Linked DNA regions of Homo sapiens. The protein of the gene in region 3 interacts with the protein of the main gene of each other region in a biochemical or structural test. Each region holds a gene or a part of one and is shown on either strand. Other genes may lie near its edges.

What was found.
Region 1: the proteins of SET (region 3) and GZMA form a complex in vitro, tested with the Homo sapiens proteins (2 studies listed by BioGRID, with this or other methods).
Region 2: the proteins of SET (region 3) and TAF1A form a complex in vitro, tested with the Homo sapiens proteins (one study listed by BioGRID).
Region 4: of the proteins of SET (region 3) and GZMK, one has a biochemical effect on the other in vitro, tested with the Homo sapiens proteins (3 studies listed by BioGRID).

Annotation. Positions count from the first base shown.
Region 1 is NC_000005.10:55,105,624-55,110,772, forward strand, and holds the end of GZMA (granzyme A precursor), read left to right. Parts: intron 1-2,170; coding exon 2,171-2,312; intron 2,313-2,501; coding exon 2,502-2,771; intron 2,772-4,397; coding exon 4,398-4,559; 3' UTR 4,560-4,629; downstream 4,630-5,149. UniProt on the Homo sapiens protein: Abundant protease in the cytosolic granules of cytotoxic T-cells and NK-cells which activates caspase-independent pyroptosis when delivered into the target cell through the immunological synapse. It cleaves after Lys or Arg.
Region 2 is NC_000001.11:222,558,896-222,565,937, reverse strand, and holds part of TAF1A (TATA box-binding protein-associated factor RNA polymerase I subunit A), read left to right. Parts: intron 1-1,812; coding exon 1,813-1,879; intron 1,880-2,641; coding exon 2,642-2,765; intron 2,766-4,419; coding exon 4,420-4,574; intron 4,575-7,042. UniProt on the Homo sapiens protein: Component of the transcription factor SL1/TIF-IB complex, which is involved in the assembly of the PIC (pre-initiation complex) during RNA polymerase I-dependent transcription.
Region 3 is NC_000009.12:128,692,217-128,696,933, reverse strand, and holds the end of SET (protein SET), read right to left. Parts: intron 4,273-4,717; coding exon 4,169-4,272; intron 4,067-4,168; coding exon 3,953-4,066; intron 3,297-3,952; coding exon 3,126-3,296; intron 3,039-3,125; coding exon 2,892-3,038; intron 2,294-2,891; coding exon 2,270-2,293; 3' UTR 538-2,269; downstream 1-537. UniProt on the Homo sapiens protein: Multitasking protein, involved in apoptosis, transcription, nucleosome assembly and histone chaperoning. Isoform 2 anti-apoptotic activity is mediated by inhibition of the GZMA-activated DNase, NME1.
Region 4 is NC_000005.10:55,027,218-55,034,259, reverse strand, and holds part of GZMK (granzyme K precursor), read right to left. Parts: intron 3,827-7,042; coding exon 3,676-3,826; intron 2,897-3,675; coding exon 2,627-2,896; intron 496-2,626; coding exon 334-495; 3' UTR 1-333.

The DNA.
Region 1 (5,149 bases), on a different chromosome or scaffold from region 3:
TGCCTGGGTTTTTAAAAAAAAGTTTGTAAAGATACTCTAATTTGGGGAAACATTAATAAAAAGAGTAGGCCGGGCACAGTGGCTTACACCTGTAATCCCAGCACTTTGGGAGGCCAAGGCAGGTGGATCACATGAGGTCAGGAGTTTGAGACTAGCCTGGCCAACATGGTGAAACCCCATCTCTATTAAAAATACAAAATTAGCCAGGCGTGGTGGCGCATGCCTGTAATCCCAGCTACTTTGGAGGCTGAGGCAGGAGAATTGTTTGAACCTAGGAGGCAGAGGTTGCAGTGAGCCGAGATCGCACCATTGCACTCCAGCCTGGGCAACGAGAGTGAGACTCCATCTCAAAATAAAATAAAATAAAATAAATAAAATAAAATAAAATAAATAAAATAAAATAAAATAAAATAAAATAAAATAAAATAAAATAAAATAAAATAAAATAAATAAAATAAAATAAAATAAAATAAAATAAAATAAAATAAAATAAATAAAATAAAATAAAATAAATAAAATAAAATAAAATAAAATAAAATAAAATAAAATAAAATAAAAAAATAAAATAAAATAAAATAAAATAAAATAAAATAAAAAATAAAATAAAATAAAATAAAATAAAATAAAATAAAATAAAATAAATAAAATAAAATAAAATAAAATAAAATAAAATAAAATATAAAATAAAATAAAATATAAAATAAAATAAAATAAATAAAATAAAATAAAGTAGATCCCACTGAAGCCATGGGAGGTTCATATGTATCTTCACATCGCTTAAGTCTTTGGGCACTTGCTTGAGCCTAAAAGGAAGTTAGGCCCACACTTGCCACAAAGAATCAGGCAATGAGGAAGCAGCATCCACAAGCTCTTTCTGTACATCTCCACTGAGCCATTGGGTACAGGTGCTGCAGAGCTTTGCTTCTGTCATGACTGCGTGACCAGGTAGAATTAGCCTCAGCATGGAAGGGTGAAACTTTCAGTGCCCCCTCAGAGCCCTGGGTGCAACCATCAAGTACAGAAAGCTTGTGTCCAATGACCTTCTTGTATGCCTCCGTGAATTCCTCTCACATCTTTGGCCATCTCTTCACTCCTGTCGACCACTACATTCAAACCTCTTCCCAGGCCTGGTCTTTTCCTACTCTCTAAATCAAGCCTCTAAACCTAGGCCATTCAATATGATAGGCACTAGCTACATGTAGCTATGTAAATTTCAATCAATTAAAGTTAAATAAAATCTCAAATTAGTTCCTCAGTTGCACTAGCCACATTTCAAGTCCTCAGTAGCCACATGTGGCTAGTGCAGATTCATAGAACATTTCATCATAAAAATATGCTCTACTGGAAAGCACTGTTCTAAGGTCTTTTTCTTTTATTTTTTAATTATTTACTTTTTATTGACATATAATAGTTGCACATATGTTGGGGATACATGTGACCATTTAAGTGAGACTAATCTCAGCTGATGTAATGGAAAAGAGGCAGTGTGCATAATCTGGTTGGTGTAGTTTATACTAGGTTATGAATGATAGCCTTAATCCAATCATCAGTACATCAGAAAGCATTTTGATTTTGATAACCAAAATGAACCTTTAAGAGAAAAAAAGACTCCTGGACCCCTCCTTCAGACCACCATCCCTTCAACACACTCAATGCCAAGCACACTCAATGCCAAGCAAATAGGGTCCTCCATGGGGCAATCTGTTTCTGAAAGTTTTCCCATTTGAGTTTGTTGTTTTCTTGAAAAGATCCCTTCAGTGCATTACTTTACAACTATTGGCTGCTTTTTGCTTCTGTCTCTGGACTACTGAGATCTTTGCTTCCCATCACAGCTAATAAGTAATTCTCCATCACAGCTAAATAAGGCAGGGGTAGGGGGCAGATAAGCACAAGACTTGGCTTTGCTGCCATGGAATTCTCTTGTTTTTCAATGAACCTAGTTTAGCTTTTTATAAATAAGCTGGTGATGATGATGATGACGATAAATTCATAAACATTCTTTTATTCATAAACATTCTTTTATTCTTTAAAGCACACATTTTCTTTCTGAGCCACAAAGAAATCTCCCCACCTCCATATTTACAAATGGGACAATGAAACTGATCAGTATATATGCTCAACTGCCAATACAAAGAATAAATCCAGTAAATAATGTTGTGTCTGTTCTCAGGAACAAAAGGTCCCAGGTCATTCTTGGGGCTCACTCAATAACCAGGGAAGAGCCAACAAAACAGATAATGCTTGTTAAGAAAGAGTTTCCCTATCCATGCTATGACCCAGCCACACGCGAAGGTGACCTTAAACTTTTACAGGTACGTATCTTTGATTGTCTTCTCAAAAGTCATAGAACCTTCTACAATCTGGCCGCCGACGTGAAAACCTTTCCTTGGTGCCCCTGTTGTAAAAACTCACAATAAAGAGGATCCTGAAATTTTGGACTATAATTTAAAATGTAAATATTTATCTTATCCCATTAACACTTTATGTTTTTCTTCCAACAGCTGATGGAAAAAGCAAAAATTAACAAATATGTGACTATCCTTCATCTACCTAAAAAGGGGGACGATGTGAAACCAGGAACCATGTGCCAAGTTGCAGGGTGGGGCAGGACTCACAATAGTGCATCTTGGTCCGATACTCTGAGAGAAGTCAATATCACCATCATAGACAGAAAAGTCTGCAATGATCGAAATCACTATAATTTTAACCCTGTGATTGGAATGAATATGGTTTGTGCTGGAAGCCTCCGAGGTGGAAGAGACTCGTGCAATGTAAGTAAAATAAGATCCCACGTTTCAGCTATTGAATTAAGTCATGCAGACAGAGAAAATGTAATGTCATGCTTTGTTTTGTCATGGCACTGGCTTCTACAGGATCCTAGAGCTTTTTGAAATAAGTTTAATAAAACCCCAGTCAAATAAATGAATGCTCGCAGCTCAAGTGAGTCATTAATCAAAAATAAGAAGTTCACTGCTAGTGCATGGGGTGACCTACTACATATTTTTGATTTTTTACAAAAATTACTAAGAAGCAATGTTTGGTCTCATTTTTCATGTTAACATACGTAGATCTAAACTTGAAGATATACAACACTTATGAGAGCTGAAGTCAGGGTTCCTCAAGGCCACTCAGTACTCTTTCCCCATTTCAGTACATTCCCTCTCCTTCCCCACTACGTTCCTCTGCCATTTAACATCGGCATGTCTGAAATGTCTGTCAAGCCTGGCTGAATATTTCCAGCCAGACCCCATAGCTTCCTAGAGCTTAGTTTAATCTGCAGCAAACTTCAAAGCATGACTCATACCAGAAAATGTGTAAGCTTCCATCCTAGAACCCCCTGAGAAGAGGTGGGATAGGGCCATGCTTAAAGATGAGAATAGAAGAAACATTTTGCAGATTTTTAAACTGAGTACTACCTTGCATTTCTCATTTGTCCCAAAGACCCTATAGAGCCTTACCTGAAGAAGGGTGTGCAGTATGCATGGTTTGGCAGTTACCAGAGACTGAGAAATCCAAAGGTCTCTGTCCTTCCCTAGATCTATGTCTTGCTTTCAGAACCAAAGCTAGCCAAATCCCAGGAAAAGAAAACATTTGTCTTCAGTACCTGTCCACTTTCTCTTCTCTGCCCTAGTTCCCCCATTCCCTCCCTTGTCCACCACCCTGGGTTCCCAGGAACCCAGAACCTTCATGCTTTTGGAACCCACATGCAGCATCCTAAGGCCACGGCAGCATCCCAAGACGCTAGTCCCCATCCCACCAGCCACCCGCCACCACCGAAACTTGGCAATCCTTGCCTGTTCTCTCAACACCCTGGAATTGGCTATTGATGAATTAAACCTAAAGGACTAATTCTGCAAATGCCAGTTACTGTAACAGGCAGGGGAAATAAACCTGTTCAGGGAGGATCCCGGGTTCCAACATGGTTCTTTATTTCATATCTTTATAAGGCCAACTTTTGCCTGAAAGGGACTGATTTGGTTTTGTTTCTTTTGGAAGGCAATTATCTGCTAGAAGAACCACAAAACATAGTGTTTATTCTTTGCTTCAATGTATCATCTGCATTTGACTATTTTGCCCCTTGAGTTATTAAGCATTTTGAGAAAACGACAAATAAACAGGAGACTTTCCTTTCCAAAAGCAGAGCAATAGTCTCAAAATTAGCTGATAACATGTACAAGTTTCACTTCGATTTTCACTGGCTCATAAATAAACCAAGTGAACCAATTCAAAAATATTAAAATATTTCCAAACATTTTAATTTTTAAAATTAAAGCACTATCTTCAATTAAGTCAAGGTTGGTCTTAACTGCATATTAAATGCTGCAGAATTTCTTCCATTTCACTAGTGGTAATGCTGAACACTGACCCCACACCCTACCCCTCTTGTTTTCCTCCAGGGAGATTCTGGAAGCCCTTTGTTGTGCGAGGGTGTTTTCCGAGGGGTCACTTCCTTTGGCCTTGAAAATAAATGCGGAGACCCTCGTGGGCCTGGTGTCTATATTCTTCTCTCAAAGAAACACCTCAACTGGATAATTATGACTATCAAGGGAGCAGTTTAAATAACCGTTTCCTTTCATTTACTGTGGCTTCTTAATCTTTTCACAAATAAAATCAATTTGCATGACTGTACCTGTTTCTCTCTTGTAACCTTAGTGGGCAGATCTGCACCAGCAAAGTGAAGCAGAGTTACATGGCAGCCTTGTAGATAATGCAAGGATTACGTGATCAATGTCACCAGAGTCATTTGTGCGTCAAGTGACATGGGAATGCTTCCTGAATTATTCATCTCTCTGTCTCCATGAAATCCAGCAAGAACAACCCTAAGATCAGGTCTAATAACAAATGCAGTAAAGGCCTCCACAATTCCACAGGAAACAGAAACAGCCAGTCTGGAACATTTGTGTTAAAAGGAAATATAGGGCATTGTTCCACATTAACACCTGCTTTTCATGTTATACACAAGAACCTGAGTCTATGGGAGAAAAAGAAACAAGCAATGCCTTACGGTATTTTCCAAATTCTAGGGCATACAAATAAAGTGCTTGGGCAGCCAAGAAAATTATACAATAGAGAGTCAGCCTTCTTTCTCAGTGCCTTGCATTTAAGCCTTGGATTACCTAGGTGATTTCTCAGTTCTCTTTGTTCTTGA
Region 2 (7,042 bases), on a different chromosome or scaffold from region 3:
TGGAAACTAAGTTTTATAAATTTTTCAACAGGCTTTGTTTTACTAAACAATCCTTTGCTGTTGTTGTTGTTTGAAACAGGGTCTCACTCTGTTGCCCAAGCTGGAGTGCAATGGCATGATCACGTGAGGCTCCCTGTAGCCTCCACCTCCCTGGCTCAGGTGATCCTGCCACCTCAGCCTCCCGAGTAGCTGGGACTACAGGCACACGCCACCATGGCTGGCTAATTTTTTGTATTTTTGGAGAAACAGGGTTTTGCTATGTTGCCCAGGCTGGACTAAACAATACCTTTAAAGTTGCTATTTTTATTTTACTCTCTTAAGATAGCTTTTGGCTCATTTATATTACAAAATATTAAGGATTGTGTTTAAAACAAAAGCAAGACTGTGCTTTCAGGTTATCAATCACTAATGGTGTTTTTGAAAAGATTTTTTAAAATGCTACAGAAAATAACTGTTGAATACTTATCTCATATTTATATTCAAGACAAGATGGATTTAGAGAAATTCTGTTTTTCCTTTTGAAAAATAGGGTATTTGGAATTAAGATCTCAATACATGGGTTTAATAGCAGATTGGACATAGCAAAAGAGAGGATTAATGAACTGCATAGAAAATATCAGGCTAAACCATGGAGAACAAAAAGGATGAAAGGTGCAGAAACGAGCATACAAGTGAATTGGTGAAAAGATCTGACATACCTGTCATTGGAGTCCTAGGTGGAGGACCTCTGAATAGAACAGGGCAAAAGCAAGCAAACTAATTTTTTAAAAACACTGGCATTTGAAGGGCTCATGACTAAGACTTTTTCAAAACAAATGGAGGATTTCTAGTGTTCTGGTGATGTGCTATTATTTGATCTGGGTGCTGGTTACCTGAGTGTTTAACTTTGTGAAAACTGACTGGTGTCATGATTTGTATGCACTTCTACTACATGTTATATTTCAATAGAAAAATCTAAGTGAATTGAGCCATATACAGAATTCTATAAAATCATGAGACAAATGTGACTTTCATAGGAACTGAATTTCAATAATATTCTCTGATATTGGTGTATTGATCTTGATTGATCTTTTTAAAAATGATTAAGAGAAATTAACAAAATTTACTTTTAATTTTGTTGGAAATTATTTCAATGTAAGGTCAAAGTACTTTAGTAAGCAGAATGAATTCATTTCTAGTATTAAATGTATTAAAATGAAAAATACAGCTTTACTTTAAATTCCATTTTTTGAATATTCATAAAAATAGTCCTTCCTATTTTTTAAAAGAAAAATCTTTAATTTTTTCATTGTGTGAAAGGTTGTTAAAATATTTACTCATATAACCTTAGTAAACTGTTCCTGAGCACAATCTGTGAAATTAACTCCCAGCCTTTTTAGCTTTTTTGCTTTATATAAATATTCTGTGATCTCTTCTGTTTAGTAAATAAGTATATTTTCTGTGTGATAATTGATTTTTTTCTTTTTTTCTTCAGTCCTGGCTTCTGAAAGAAATCGTTTTTAGTTGTTGAGCGTGGTAAACAGTATAGATATGTATAAGGAGCAAATAAAAAGTCCCTGCCTATTTTCCTCACTTCTCCTGACTATTTTGTTATCAGGGCCTTTTTTTTTTTTTTTTTTTTAAGACAGCTTTACAGAGAATGCTTTTCTATACTTAGATTGAAACTAGATAAAGAGCCAGGGTATTTTTAAAATACTTAATAAATTTAAAGGGAGCATATTAGACAGTAAGAACTTTATTTTGAAAGTAAGCTGAAATTTGAGAAATGCTTTTACAAGTATGTAAAGATTACAAGACTGTTCTTTCTTTCAGATTTTGTATCAGATTGTACCATCTCATAAATTGATGTTGGAATTCCATACATTACTTAGAAAATCAGGTAATAAATAAATGTTGTTTTATACCTTGTGTAGACAAGCTATAGACTAGGGACCAGCAAACTAGTTTAGCCCATCGGCTAAATCCACCCCTTTCCTGATTTTATAAATCAAGTTCTGTTGGAGTCCATCTGTTTCTGTATTGTCTGCGGCTGCTTTTGCACTATAGTGACAGAGCCGTGTAGTTGTGACAGAGACTGTATGCCTTGCAAAGCTTAAAATATTTATTATCTGGGCCTTTATAGAAAAAGTTTGCCTACTCCTGTTACACAATGTGAAGGCAGTAGTTTGCAAAAGAGAAATGGCTCGATTTTATATAATTCACTCCATTTTAATCCCTGCTACATTTCAGCACACCATAGAAGAGAGCATGCTCCTTCATAGAAGAAAATCAGCTGGCTAAGCCCAAGCTGGTCCTAGGACTGCCTAGGTTCCTCTCTGAATATGAAAGAACATGTATAAAATGCCCAAACAGGGCAGGTACTTTAAATAATGTCCTTAGTAGAGGAGTGTAACCCATATTGAGATCAAATTCACCACCATTACCTCATTAGCAGGGATTTTTATTGAGTTTTTCAGATTCATTGCAGGAGTAAGAGCATAATGAATTTTTAAAAACTGTTAACCAGAAGGCTTATGATTCAGTATTTTATCAACAACATATATGTAAAGTATATATACAGTTGATAAAATGTATACATGTAAATTTTAGCTTTGTACACTTTAATACCTTATGTAAACTTGAACTGTTAAAACCATTGCAGAAAAAGAAGAACACCGTAAACTGGGGTTGGAGGTATTATTTGGAGTCTTAGATTTTGCCGGATGCACTAAGAATATAACTGCTTGGAAATACTTGGCAAAATATCTGAAAAATATCTTAATGGGGTAAGAAACATACAGTGTTTATTACTAGGTCATCATAAATAATATTTCCCAATATTTTAGCTAATATCAATTTTTAAAGATCTTTGCTTATGTTTTATAATTTCTTGAATTGTGTCTTCAGCTGTTTTCTGAGTACATTTTCTTCTGAAGCAAAGAAATACAGAGTCATAAGGAGAACATACAAAAATTCTATCAATTTTTTTATGCCATCAAAATAAATCCTGTACTTAGCACTACTGCTTGCTAAGGAATACGTATGTGTTTTCCATTTGGAAATAAAGACTAGCAGGGATCACTCTTTGCTAAAGACTCTTTGTGATTTGTGCGTCATTAACTTGTAAGATCACATGGGAAGCAGCTTTCCTCCTACCTGTGTTTGATCATTTTCAGTGAGTATTTTTAGGACCTGACAAGATCATCATACACTAGTCATTTAACAAATACTCATTAAATCCATTTTGACCTGGGTATCTAAAAGTGTACCTCTGATCATAATATTGTTAGTGTCACATTTTGAGTAAAAGAAAATGAATTTCCTGTTATTTTTACTTAGTGTGTGAGAAGAAGGGATATTACAAAGTTGTTTCATATATTTATTATATCCAATTTAGTTGTTAGGCAATTCAGTGTCAGTTGGAAATTGTTTCAGGCTTCAGATCTGACTTGTCCCGATGGGACAGTGCTGTTTATAAAATGGTTTTGGTGTCATATGTTGACGCACTCACTGTAAAGCATTTTCTAAATCTGAAGCCCTGAATAAACTTCTACTAGATCATAAGGTCCTTGAAAGCAAAGAGGTTCATTTTTTCGAACCTCTATTTGTTCTACCATAGGGGGCACATGGGTGCCAATAAGCATTTGCTCAATTAAATTATAGAGATCTAATGTGCAACGTAGACTGTAGTTAATATTGTATTGCATATAGGAAATTTACTATGAGTAGAGTTCAGGTGCTCCCACCACTCAAAAAAGTTAACTATATGTATATGAAACATGTTGTATACCTTAAATATATACAATAAAAAAAATTATTCACAGACACACAGAATTGCCTGCACTTAACAGTTTAACATATGTCTTAATGTATTTGTATAATAATGGTATCTCCATTTGGATAGTAATTCATGGCAGCATATAATTTTAAGTAAGGTTTTACTTAAGTAATAGTAATAGATAATATTTATTGAACATTTACTATGTACCAGACACTATGCAAAGAGCTTTATATGAGACCTGCTGTACCCTACTACTAGAATAGTTTAATCTTAATAACATTCCTATGAGATCAGTACCACTAATGTCCTCAAGGGCACTGAAGCTCAGAGAGGTTCAGCAACTTGCCCAGGATCACATACATAGTAGATGGAAGAGCTGATATTTGAATCCAGGATTCTGGCTTCGAGTCTGTTCTGTAACCACTGTGCTAAACTGTCTGTTTAGTGAAATGGAAAATGGGATATGGAGATGGAAGAGAACAAAAAAGGATTTGCTTTCCTGCTGTTGCCAATCATGTGTTATGCCTTGGCCATATTGAGAATTTAGCTTGGAAGCATCTTCCTTGTCATCTTTCTGTAGACTCTAGTTAAGTCTAAATTCTGATAATATAGATTTGTTTCCATCATTGACCCTCTCTTTTGACATTTTTCTTTTCCAGAAACCACCTTGCGTGGGTTCAAGAAGAGTGGAACTCCAGGAAAAACTGGTGGCCAGGCTTTCATTTCAGCTACTTTTGGGCAAAAAGTGATTGGAAGGAAGATACAGCTTTGGCCTGTGAGAAAGCTTTTGTGGCTGGTTTACTGTTAGGAAAAGGTACAGTTTTTATTTTCGTTTTATCTAGACACAGCTTTGGCTGATTTTGAAATTATGAAGTATGGCCTTCATTTAGAGCTTACCTAACATGGTACCTAAAAATATTAGGTGCTTAAGACATAACTGCTCAATGGAAGAGTGAATCCTGAGTTGGGACTATGTGCTTAGATTAGAAGCAGTGATTTCATATTGATTGTGAACGGTTTTCATCTCCTGACTTGAGTGTTGTTAGGGGGCCATTAAGATACATGATACAGAGTTTTCACAATAATTGACCATTTGGCCTTGTTTTATAGAAAGTTTACTGAGATTTTCAAGTGTCAAAATATTCTTTATTGACCTCACTGTTCTTTAATAGCTTCATATTATACTAATATTTACTTACCTGTTTCTGTAAGCGTGAAACATTTCCTCCACTTAAGAGAAAGAATACCTCCTACTAGCATATGAAAAAAATTCTCTTCAAAGAAAAGGGATATTGATTTTTTCTTCAAAGAAAAGAAATATTTTGGGTGGTAAAATTCTTACCTGCTTTCTGCCACTGAAATTATTAAAAGGTGGCCAGTACCGAAATGAAACTACCACAGAGTATGTCCAGAAATGAAGAAAATAAATCTTACAGTGACCACTAGTAAGCAGTCCATTGCTAGGGAGCTTAAGGTGTCCTGAAGAGATTCTCCAATTCACTTTTGAATATGGTTTCTATTATTTTGGAATTAGTAGTCTCAGTGAATGTAATACAATGTTGATTAAGAAGAAAATAAAAATCAATACACTGATGACAAGGAACAGAAAGGTGATTTGGATTGTCATTTTTCTACTTTATGAGTAGAGCGGCATCTAGCACAATTATCAAGAGGTCTCTTTGAGCAGAGTAGGAAGATCTGGGTTAATTTTCCAATTCACTCCCTTGCTATCTAACTTAGGTCAAGCAATTAACTTTTAGGAGCCTTTTCTATGAAGTGGGCATTGTAACACCCATCTTATTGTTGTAAGTATCATGTGAACATCGCATCAAAGTGCTTTGTAATTTCTAAAGTGCTCTACAAATATCAGGCATCAGTTACTCCCGCAAGAGCCACATCTCCTCTCAGGCTGTTAGTGTGGGGTTGAGTCAGTCTATTCATTAGTTAAGCTGGGTTTTCTTCTTGCTCTGGTTACCAACCTTACTTTATAGGATTCAAATTCTGGGTGTGGTCTGCCTTTGCTTTGTGCTTTGAGTGGGGTATGGTGGCTCTCTTTCTTTCCATGCTGCACTAAAAGCAAGCCAGGCCCATTTCTCCTTGGAGGGGTCTTTCCTTGTTGGGATTGAAGCTACTTGGTTGCCCTGTGACTTCAGCTCTCATGGACTTGAGAGTTAGTTTATTAAGCTTTTTCTCTATGTTAGGGTGGGAACGAAATTCTTTCCAGCTTTCTATATAGGTACAGGCAAAAATCTGTGTGCAAAGTATTTTGTTTTTTACTAAGGTAGTATGATATGTTTAGAAATACAAATTATTTTAGTAACACTACAGACACCACTGCTTCCCAGCTAGTAAAACGTTACTAGCTGGGTGCGGTGGCATGCAGTGTGCCTGTAATCCTAGCTACTTGGGAGGCTGAGGTGGGAGGATTACTTGAGCCCAGGAGTTTGAAACCACTTTGTGTCCCATAGTGAGACCCCATCTCAGGAAAAACAACAAAACAAAGATGTTAGCAATTCTGGCATACTAGTTTCAGGAATAATAAAAATGGTTACTATAGGTACAGTATATGTCCTTGCATTTTCTCAGAGAAGATGGATGCATACAAGCTGAAACTGTAATGAAATTAATTTTTCATATGTGAATTATGGTCTTATTCATTTACCAACTCTAAAAAACCTCAATATCCAGTTTACATTTTTCTTACAGAAATATGATTCATTTGTCTGAAATATTTGACAAATGCTTGACAGTCCTTTGTGTGTTGTAAGACTTATGAACAGCAGGTGGAACTTCTAATGAGCATGAGGCACCTCTGTGAGAGCTACATGGTCTCCACCTTGCTGCTCTCTACATGGCTAGAATGAATAGATAATGTTTGACCGTTTCTAACCTATGATTTGTTTATTCTAATCCTTCACATCCTAAGATTTTCTACAGAGAACTTTCTTACTGTTATGAACGTAACTTTGGCTGATTTACAAGCTAACATTGAGAAGGAAGCTATACGAATGTGCTTTTGGAGAAGGCTCATTTAATATGTGACTGTATATAATATGCCTGTCACCATCACTAGGGTGTAGGAGGAAGAGTAGAAAACAAGCTAAAGTCTATGCTTTAATTATGGTGGATTAGAAACATCTTTATATATAGGAAGAAATATGTTTCGTTGGGCACAGCTGAGAATATACTTATGCCATATTGGTAATACAAATAAATTTTGTATATAGGAACAAATGTATTTCATTGGGCACAGCTGAGAATATGCTTAGGACATATTGATAA
Region 3 (4,717 bases):
AAGATGCCCCAGTGGCTGCCTGAAACCACAGGAGTATCAAGCCCCATACAATTTTTCCTGTACCTGCCTATAAAACTTAATTTCCAAATTAAGCACAGTAAGAGATTAACGGTATAGGATAATTTTGACTATTGTATACTATAACTATACATTCACACATTTAACATACAGTATAGGTGTGAATGTAGTCTCAAAGTATCTGAATTGTAGTTGACCACATGTAGCTGAAGCTGCAGATAACAGGACCCACTGTACTCAATTTTCTTCCTAGTGAAAAGTCCTTTTGAGACTTCAGAATGAAAATGCTATACTCACCCTCTCAGAAACTGTTTACTCAGAAACTGTATCCAAGTAAGATATTTGAATTTGTCCTTTACTCGGACACCGACCAGCTCAAAGCTTTCTAAACCAATGTCATACCATTAGCGCTAACCCACGCTTCCCCAGTCACTAACGATGTGAAGACAAAAAACTAGAACAATTTCTGAATCCAATAGCAAGTAACATTTCTCTATAAAACAAGGAGAATGACCCCAGTCCAAAAAAAATCTTTATGTTCCTTTATTGGAGCAAGATTCCTGATCGGTATACAGTGATGTATTTACTAAACAGAGACCTGTGCAGAAATTACATACTATCCATCTAGATAGGTTGTTACACTTTTGCCTATTGATGGAATAGTTCCATTTATCAAGTTTTATACATCAAAAAGCTTTTGAAGTTCACCAGACTGTCCATTAATTCACCTCTGAAAAAGTGGCATTTAATTTCAGCGACTATATTTTACAGCATTAAAAAGCTTATGCATTAGGGTGCTTCTCTGCACAATGGCATTGAGCAGACAGAGCTGAGTCCATTATCCCACCCAGATTCACATGGTCACATTTGAGAGCTTTATACCAGAAAGCAGGGACAGTTACTGCTCACCATCAGACTTCTTACTGAGAGCCTATCTTCTTGGCCACATTTTATATAGCCAATGAAGACATGCCAGCAACTGTCCCGTGTATAACTTGGCATTAGAGCACCAGGTCTGTTGGATGGTGGTGGCAGGCACAATTAATTTATATCCAGGTAAAAGGCCAATTTTAAAAACTGCCACTTGGAGATAAAAATCAAGGGCACAATGTACTCAGAGAGTATTGAGCTATCTGGTATCCCAAATGATGTGAATACTTTCAGAAACCAATGGCAAATTGAACCCACGTTTCCCAGCTATGGAGATATTAATACATTGATTCAAATCCCATTACTCAATCCACATAGCCCTGAGGTCATCCTGCAAAGTGCGTATCAAAAAATACGAAGTTAGGGTGACAAAGTTTGACAGTGATGTTATACAAGTCAAACTTGGAAGGTCATAGTAAGCATACCTATGCTGAGAGAAAAGCATCAAATCCTTTGTGTACACATTTAGTTTTATTGTAACAAAGCAACTTGTACACTTTTAACGTTTAAAACTGAGCATCATCTTTCCTTTCCAGTGAAACAAAAAGAAAATTTAAAAATAAACAGGAACAAAATTACAATAGAGAATGTCAATTCCAAATAAGATCCTACAGGTTCTGCTGATTCTCCCATTGAGTGGCAGGGCTCAAGTCATCATTAGGAGAGAATTTATTTTAAAAGTGTCATCTTAAACTGCAAGGATGTCTGTCAAATATCACAATTAAACATGCCAAAGGAGAAGCCATGTTGTCAAAATGCCCACTTAACCCACCCAAACATCTCAAACCCACCCTTTGCTGACCTTCTATAACCCCATTTTTTTAAGTTTTTTTTTCTTTTTTTAAACAAGAGAAAGTAGACAGATACATGTTGGTAAATGCTAACTGTCCATATTCACATAGAGACACAGTGTACTCTCTGAGCCCAATATACAGAGAAAGGAGGAAAAAAGCTAGAATTCTATGCACTACTACACAGGGGCCTAGCACCCTCCAGCTTCCAGCAGAGCGAAGGGAGCAGGTTTTTCTTTTTTCCCACAGAGCTCGGTGGTGTTGATTCCATACAGTTTTTGTTCAGACAGGAAGGGATAAAAATGAACTTCGAACAGAAAGGGGTAGAGACTCTTTTCCCATTGTATTCTGCTCAAGGTATTTCCCCCCAAATAAATTGAGAACCATGGAGTAGAGAAAAGAGACCTCAAGAACAGGGCGACTGAGCACAAGAGGGAAAAAAAAAAAAAAAAAAAAAAAAGACTGCAACTTGCTCCCAGGGACTGGAGAAAATTTAAAAAAAGGAAGGTTGGAATCCATCAGTGTTCTATTTAGTCATCTTCTCCTTCATCCTCCTGAAAGAAAAAGTGGGCAGTTAATCTTCAGGATTAATGCTGAGACTTGCTTTCATATGGACCACAATGGACCCCACGAGTGCCCCTGGGGGCACTCCAGTTTCTAAACCTGTAAGTCAGCTGCATCGAAGGAAACACCCGTGATGATGTTGCTTCAGATTAATTAGTAACTTCAGTTCTAACCAAATCAGGTATATTTCGGATCAAATAATCCGAAATAAAACCAACCTATCCTAATTTGACTATTCAGAAATTGTGCAGTTTGTCGAAAATACATGAAACTTTGTTATTTCAGAGATGTCAGAATTTGACCAGCTACACTGCCTATATTGCCTAAGTACTGGCTAGGGAAAAACAAGCTTGGGTGGTGATAAGTCTAACCAAAAAAACCCAAAAAAAAACCAAAAAAAACCTAGTTAAACATTAGTACCATGTGCTTATCAAACATTTCCTTAATTCTTGAACAACAAAATGGCTTACTTTTTTTCCACAATCAGTTCTGGTCAGTTCTACCACACTATATATATATATATACACCCCAAAATAACATGAATTCTTTAAAAGTTATCTTTGTGGGTTTAGCCAAATTTTCTTTTACCTCTCCTTCCTCCCCTTCATCATCATCTTCATCTTCTTCACCTTCATCCTCATCCCCTTCTTCGTCAATATCTTCTAATCCTTCCTCCTCTTCATCATCATCATCATCTTCTTCTCCTTCTCCTTCTTCATCATCCATATCGGGAACCTTAAAAAAAAAAAAGCACAATATAAGGACTCATTTTTAAACAACCGAGACAAGTCCAACCTTGAATAAATGAGTATTAGAACTCACCAAGTAGTACTGTAATGGGTTTGGCCAAATATCATCTTTGATGACCTCTCCTAACTCATCAGCACCTGCATCAGAATGGTCAGTAAACCAGGTAAAGAAGCTCTCTGGTTCCTCATGCTGCCTCTTCCTGCTGGCTTTATTCTGCGTTTGACTCGAACGTTTCGTCAAATCCTAAATGAATACCGGAAGAGCTTTTGATACAATCTCTCCATAACACCCAAACTCCCTATAATTTAAAAAATAAGATTTTCCCCAAAAGCTAAGCAAAACAAATATCAGTATACTATCTACGCTACCATTATTACCTAAGAGCAATTATAAAACTGTGCAGCAGGTAGAGGTAGTATCAACTACATTTGGTTTTCCATAAAATTAGTTCCACTGTTAACAGCCACTAGCACAACACAGTATAAATATCTAAACTATGTCTTACTACCTAAATACGGATGTAAATGATTTTGAGAAATGGCAAGCCATTTGAAGAGCTCAGTCACCACTGCAGAAAACAACAGCAACAAAAAATTTAGTCCAGTTCTCAATTCTTAAACTTGGGCTAGATTTTTCTCTTTTTTTTTGTTTTTTGGAAGGTAAGGGTCTATGTTGCCCAGGGTAAACTCCTAGGCTCAAGAGATCTTCCTGCCTACATCTGTAGTATCTAATGAGAACCCTAAACTACTGTAATACTTGGCTTCAGCACACTGGAACGTTTTATATTTTAAGGTTTTGTATTTAGCCACATGACCAAAGTATCAAGCACTTGTAAGTGGTTAAAACTAAACTGAAATAGGCAAAATGCTATTTTTGTCAAATAATTCCTCAAAACATACCTTTCCAGATTTCCATTTGATTTCGGTGGACTTCGAAGATGGATCACCACTCTCATTCAGATGAAATTCTTTGGAGAGAACTTTATTTTCAAAGTAAGGATTTTCATCAAAATACTGTAATAAATAATTGAAAGATTAGAAATATGAACAGGTCTTCCAACCAAAGCTCACATTAATTTCCACAGTGGCAAACAAGATTAAGTTAGAGATACTTACAAAATCTATTCTGTAACCTGATTTAATATCTTCAAATTCTGTCACTTCAACTCTGGTCAAATAATGCAGTGCCTCTTCATCTTCCTCCCCAAGCAGTGCAGACACTAGGCCAGAAAATTACAGGTCAGCTGAATTTTCAACAGGCACACACTAACAACAATTTAAGTGATCCCTTTAAAATTTTTCCGAACTTAGTGAGCATCTTTGGTTTTATAAACCCATTATTAACTAAAGGCAATTGCTCAATATCAGACTGTCACTATCTTTCATCAAGCAATTAGAATATAGCTTCTCCTAAACAGAATAGAAAGCAGTAGCTGTATATCTTTTCCCGTCTTTGAGGTTTTTTTTTTTTTTTTTTTTTTTTTGAAACAGTCTCACTCTTGTCGCCCAGGCTGGAATGCAAAAGCGCACAATCTCGGCTCACTGCAACCTCCCCCTCCTGGGTTCAAGCGATTCTCCTGCCTCAGCCTCCCAAGTAGCGAGTAGCTGGGATTACAAGCGCGCGCCACCACGCCCAGCTAATTTTTTTTGTATTTTTAGTAGAGA
Region 4 (7,042 bases), on a different chromosome or scaffold from region 3:
ATCCAGCAGAAGTTACACCTAGTTGAAGGTGGTACCATTACTGTTTTATTCAGTGACCTTATTGCCCTTTGGCGAGTGTGGGTGCAATGGGGGCAGATATTACTTCATGTGATAAAAGACAAACAGAGAGTCTTCTAAATTTTATTTAGAATAAAACCAGCATGGTAGAAATACATCAGTGATACAAGTGAAAAAGAACTTGATTCCTTAATAAAATGACTTACAAGTGCAAAAATGGACCCCATATGTGCTCTGCTTTACTTACACCCAACTCTAACCTGCGAGCATATTAGGAAAAAAGAAGCAAGTGCATCCAATAAAATTATTTGTAACTTAATTTGTATGAGGCGGGACAAGGTTGCTTTTGATCCAAGTCTGGTATTTCTTGGTTAACAGGGTGTAGATTCCAGGCTTTGTGGCAACACCACATTCATGACCTCCAGAGACTATAGCGTGGAAGACACCTTTACAGATCAAGGGGCCCCCTGAGTCACCCTGGAAGGAAGAAAAAGGGCAAATACGTGGTAAGAAGCTGTTGGGATATTTTTGTTTTTTAACCACCAACTGCTGATTGCTCAAGGGATTATCATCTGGGTCTTTGCTTTCTTTATGTCCAGAAGAGTGTCTGACACTGCCTCTTACTCGTTATAGGTTGTCCATGTGCCTGTCTCTGTCAAGGACTATGTTTCTGCCTACTTGCTTCTCTGTTTATGTCTCTATCTATGACTATGACTATGCCTCTGCCTCTGTCTCAGTGTCCATGTCTATATCTCTGTTTTGTCCCTATCTATGTCTACATTCCTCTGGGAATCAATGACTATTGACTATTTATTAAAGAATGGATAAAGTTTTAAATAATCCACTGAAATAAAATAATCTTTTAAAATTGTAGATTTCATTTTGATGCTCACAGACCTAAAATCGAGTTGTTATTGAGGCTAGCAGAAAAGAGCAATGTATTGTAGTAAATGTCTTCATGGCAGGAATTATATGTTCTCTGTTATTTATTTATTTTTTGCATCCTCACATGGTTGGACATAGTGTTATGTATATGTACCATACTTAGTAAATACTTAGTGAATGAAATGATTTTTGAAGACACTCTAACAGCAAAGCATGTAACTAAATTCTATCAAGTGAAGGGAAAGAGCTATAGAGGGGATGGCATGGCCTTTTGATGAAGAGCTGGCTTCTACATTTGAAGACCAGCCTTTCTCTTTGCTAATGTTCACATTGCAAACTGCAGTGCCTTATACTTTGGTCAACCATGATAACCGATGTTTAGGAGGGTGATGGTCTTGGGTACTGCAGATGCACAAGACATTTGAAGTCATCATATCCTCTCCCCCAATTATACTTAATATAGTATGAGATGAATACTGTATTCTAATTTTTAAAAAATTAGTAATTCATTTGTGCTATATATTAGTATAGTTCATACAAACATGAACACCTATTTTTTTCCTTACCATCTCAATAAACAAATGATTTTGAAAAACATAATGACTCTTGTTCCTTTTTTTCTTTTAAGACAGGGTCTCATTTTGTCACCCAGACTGGAATGCAGTGGCAAGATCTCGGCTCACTTCAGCCTCAACCTCCTGGGCTCAGGTGATCCTCCCCCCTCAGCCTCCTGAGTAGGTGGGACTACAGGCGTGTGCCACCACACCTGGCTAATTTTTGTATTTTTTGTAGAAACGGGTTTTCACCATATCGCCCAGGCTGGTCTCAAACTCCTGAGTTCAACAGATCCATCCACCTTGGCCTCCCAAAGTGCTGGGATTACAGGTGTGAGCCACCATGCCCGGCCTTTTGTTCCTTTTTGTTAGTCAGTGGTATGGTCTGAAAGTCTGATTCCTCCGAATTCATATGTTGCAATCCTCACTCCCAAGGTGAGAGTATTAGGAGGTGGTGATTTTGGGAAGTGATTAGGTCATGGAGGTGAAGGCTTCATGAATGAGATTAGTTCCCTTATTAAAGAGGCCTAAGAGAGACCCCTCACCCCATCTACCATGTGAGATTAGAGTGAAAAGAAGCTGTTTATGAACCAGAAAGTAGGCCCTCCCCAGACACCAAATGTGCTGGTGCCTTGATCTTGATCTTGAACAGAATAAAGTTCTGTTATTTATAAGCCACCGAGTTTATGGTATTTTGTGGTAGCAGCCCAAACAGACGAAGACAGTCAGTCAGCATTACTTATGAAACACATACTGTATATTTGAGCTTTTTGCATTTGAGTCTTTAAGGCCTCCTTATTGATTAATCTGCAAGGTGGTTCTTTAAATAAGTTATCTTCTAATCACCACTAGTGACTTCAGGGTTGGTAGACTTTGTAAGGAGGATAACACCTCTCATAGGAAGCCTGTAAAAGTTGTCAGATATGGTCTATTATCCTGATTAACAAACATTTAGTGGGTGCTTATAAAGTATTGGGGAAGTTTTTACAATCCATCCACATTGGTAGATGAAAAAGAATAGAGAATGCTGTGCAGGAATGAAGAGAAAGTGTTTAGAATTGTGGTTTTGTATTCTCCATGCCCCTCCCTCCTCCTCAGTGTCAGTGAGCAATAGAGGCTTGGCTACTGTACAGCGCTCCAAGATGCCTGTTTGAAAGAGAGATTCTTACCTTACAGGAATCCTTCTGGCCTTTGGCATCTCCTGCACAGACCATGTCTTTGGTGATAAAAGGGTCGCCGTTGTAGTAACTTTGGCTGTTGCAAAGTTTTCGACTTAGGACAGTAACAGTGACTTCTCGCAGGGTGTCAGAAGGTCTTAATGAATCTGGATCGGTGGCTCCCCAGCCAGTAACCTTGCATTTGGTTCCAGATCTAAGAGAGGTTTTGGATCTTATGTGGAGCATCTTGACATGTTTATTGAGTTTTGCGGCTGTTTGAAGCTGACAGATTGAAAAAAGATGGAATTATTTCTTTCCCAGTAGTATTCTGATGCTAGCCTGTGCGTCGTATGTGTGGTCCCTCTGTCTTAGGCGGGCGTCCCTGTTCTGGGATCTACTTTGGTGGTGGCCTGCAGCTGCATTTGTGGTTGTTGCTTTTCTGACCATGCTCTCTACTCCCCGAGGAGCTCACTGAGGCTTGGGGCGGGAGCTTATAGAGAGCAGGAATTTGTTCAGTCTCGAGCAAACTGGCCTTTGCCCTGCATTGGATGGTTTTGTGTGGAATAACATCCATAGGTCATGACTTTGAGGGCTGGGCTGCTTCCTGCCGGATAGGACCCTTGAGTATGGTCTAGACCAAGTTCGGACTAAATTAAGTGTGGTCTAGACTAAGCTGTAACTCACTGCTGAGCCCCCGAAGTCACTTGGTTGGCTCTGTTGTATAAACAACTGTTGTATTTTTTTACTTGCTAATGAGAAAAGCATTTGGGAGAAAAGCTTTCAGTGTGGATCCTTGGGCCTGTTAAGATGTTCCCCTCCTACATATGTTGAGTATCAGAGTTGCTTTTCCTTGTATAAACACAGCCCTGGTGCATTTGTGATAAATTCTTGTTTCTTTCAAGACAGTATATGGAATAACATGGGCCCTTATAAAATATATCATAATCACCTCAAACATGGGGAGGGTGCTAGCAAAATGCATTTTGTAGGTGATTTAACTAATTGAGCCATCCTGTATAAAAATGTTGACAAAATAGAAGGAAGACAATGCTACTACCTACCTTAACCAGCATGATATCATTTGATTGAGGATCTGATGTAACTCTTGAGAATGGTATAAATTTTTTGATCTCCAGTGTTTGTTTGGAGGCCTCATTCTTTGAGAGAGAGTGTGCGCCTAAAACCACAGTGGGAGACTGGCCTTTGGTAAACCTAAAAAAAGCAAAGACAATGAAAGCAGCAGAATGATTTCCAAATCCCCCAGTGGGGAGTGGTGATGGTCGAGAGGGTTGTATACACAGAGAAACAAGGGCTATCTCCAAGGTAACCTGCCTAAGATTAGGTGGAGTGACAAAGGTCTTAGTGGAGCCCAGCATGAATTGATATTAAGGGCCAAATGACTTGCCCTTAATCCCACCCTAAACCAATTCCCTGGCATTGCAAAAGAATATCAGAACTTGTATCCAACTGGGGGAAGAAAAAGGAGTGAAATCCTAATTGACTTAGATCAAGTTTAAAACAAAATTATGTTCATTTATGTAAAAATAAAGCAAATTATATTCCTTGAGTTTGTAGTTTGAGATTTACACCAACTACCATTAAAATTTGTTTATTGTGGTAAAGTATACATAATGGTATAAGAATGGTAAAATTTACCATTTTAACCATTCTTTAATGTACAGTTTGGTGGTATGAAGGACATGTATATTGTTGTTCATCCACCACTATCATCTCCAGAACCCCAGAACTTTTTTTATCTTCCCAACATTAAGTGTTTTAATAATTAAGGTAGCCAGGTGTGGTGGCTCATGCCTGTAATCCCAGCCACTTGGGAGACTGAGGTGGGAGGATCATTTGAGGCCAGGAGTTTGAGAGAAACCTGGGCAATACAGTGAGACCCCCATCTCTAAAAAAACATTAAGGGGCACACTGGTGCATGCTGGGCATGGTGGTGCATGCCTACAGTCCCAGCTGTTTGAGAGGCTGAAGCAGGAGGGATTGCTTGAGTCCTGGAGCTGGAGGCTGAAGTGTCACAGCCTGGGTGACAGAACAAGGCCCCATCTCTTAAAAACAAACAAACAAACAAACAAACAAACAAACAAAAACCACAAAGATCCCCACCCTACACTTGCTCACCCACATGCCTAGACTTCATCTCAGGTCAATGTGGGGAAGTAAGGCCTATTACATGACAGTCAGATATGTCCATATGTCCTGTCCCCTCAATTAGAACAAAGATTTGGACAAGAAAGGAAAACTTTCCTCAAGGTAAGAAAACAGTGCTAATTTAAAATGAAGATACTTTAAGGTTAGTAGCCATTCCATCGGGGAGATTTAGAGGATACGAACTGGTGAGTGAGGTGAAGAAATAGGTTTGTTTTTTGGCTTTCTTTTTTAACGTTTTTTTTTTTGAGAAGGAGTCTTGCTCTGTTTCCCAGGCTGGAGTTCAGTGGCGCCATCTCGGCTCACAGCAACCTCCGCCTCCCAGGATCAAGCGATTCTCCTGCCTCAGCCTCCCGAGAGGCTGGGACTACAGGCTTGTGCCGCCACACCTGGCTAATTTTTGTATTTTTAGTAAAGACGGAATTTCATCATGTTGGCCAGGGTGGTCTCAATCTCCTGACCTCAGGTGATCTACTGGCCTCAGCCTCCCAAAGTGCTGGGATTACAGGCGTGAGTCTCTGTGCCTGGCAAGGTTTGCTTTTTAAATCTCTGGTCATACACAGTTCTAGTACCAGTGTTTCAACAGTGCCACAATTGATCTGATTTACTCTTTGTTGGATAAAATTACATTTACAGCAGTGATAAAGTAGAAATAATTTTTTGGAGATTTTGGCAGAACCGTAGAGCCATTTGTATACTACAGATACATTCCATTACAGTGTCTATCTTTATGAAGTCCACCTCAGATCTTTTAATTGTATTTGTTTGTTTACATGTAACTATTTCTTTGCTACTTGGAAAAGCTACCAAAGTAGATTGCAGTAAAAACACACATACTCATGCATATAGATTAATAAAGATTAATAAAAGTTACAAAGAGCACAGAAACATACAGAAAAAGGAAGACATGATTGTTTCAGATTTGAAAATGGCAAATGCCTGTGGTAGAGTGGGTTTGCTTATGGCAGAGCTGTGACTGCCTGGAATGACCACTTTTTGGTTTCTACCAAAAGAGTTTATTTTTATTTATTTTGGGAATTCCAGCTCTATTTGTTGAAAAGTTTGCCTATTGCAAAATCAGGACCGGGTGGAAATTTCTCATAGGATGTGGACTGGATTTCCTAGGATTGATTTGAATTCAAATTCAACATACCCACTAAACCCAAAACTTTGTAGGAGAAGGATGACATAAAAATCTTCAGGATGAATGCTCTAACAGAAAGGTGGGCACGTGCCTAAATGACTCACACAAAGAAGGCTATGAGGTACAAATGAGAGGTATGGAGGGTGGATTCTCACTAAGGGAGGGATGCTGAAAAAATGTCTGGGTTTCTTTCGTCTTTTACTAATTTACTCGGCTAGTTATTGCCTTTGAAATGTTTTGGTTATTTTTGTCTCCACTGGGACATGTTAAGACCAAAAACAACCCAAGCAGACCATTATTCCTTCTGACCTTTCAATTTCTAGATATCCTTCAACTGTAATCTGTGCTACTCAGGTCAAATTTTCTGCCCACAGGGTACCTGGAATTACTTGAGTTCTGGGATGCCACCTCCTTAGCTAAACTGAAGTCTGAATTCACACAAAGAGGAAGTAATAATGCCAGTGTTTTTCAGTTGCACAGCACAGGATTTCCCCAAATGCAGTCTTCAGACTTGCTTCAGAATCACCTGGAGGTGTTGGTTTAAAATGTGGTTTCCGGAGTCCCACCCTGAGCTTTCCTGGAAGAGATTCATATATGGAGCAGAACTACAGTGCGGCTTATAGTGGGTCTGCTGAAGACATCTGTAAACATTGTCTCCATTGAGCCTAACAATAACCTTTTTCAAGGCTGGTAAAGCTGACGGGCTGTGTATTCCTTACCAGTAAAAGATTGTTCTCTGACTGGTCCAAGGTGACACACCTCATAAATAGGGGAATCAGGACCCAAATTTGGCTTTTGGTGACTCCCAGTCCAGTGCTCTTTCCTCAATCCCTCTTTGAACCCCGTGCCAACCCCCTTCAAGCCTCTTCTTTTCTCTGCCAGCGCGCCTGGACACTCAACAGTGGTTCTGCTTAGACCCGCCCCTTGAGGTCTGGCAGCAAAGGCAGGGTCCCTATGTCTTGGAGATTTCTCTTGCCTAAGAGAGAGGGAGAAGAACTTGGCTGTCAGAGAGGGAGGTCTTCCCAGTCTTATCTCGTCAACATCAGATTAGTTCCTTGGTTATTACCATGGAAGGCACAGATAATTGTATAACAATACTCGATAACATCTATTAAGTTCTT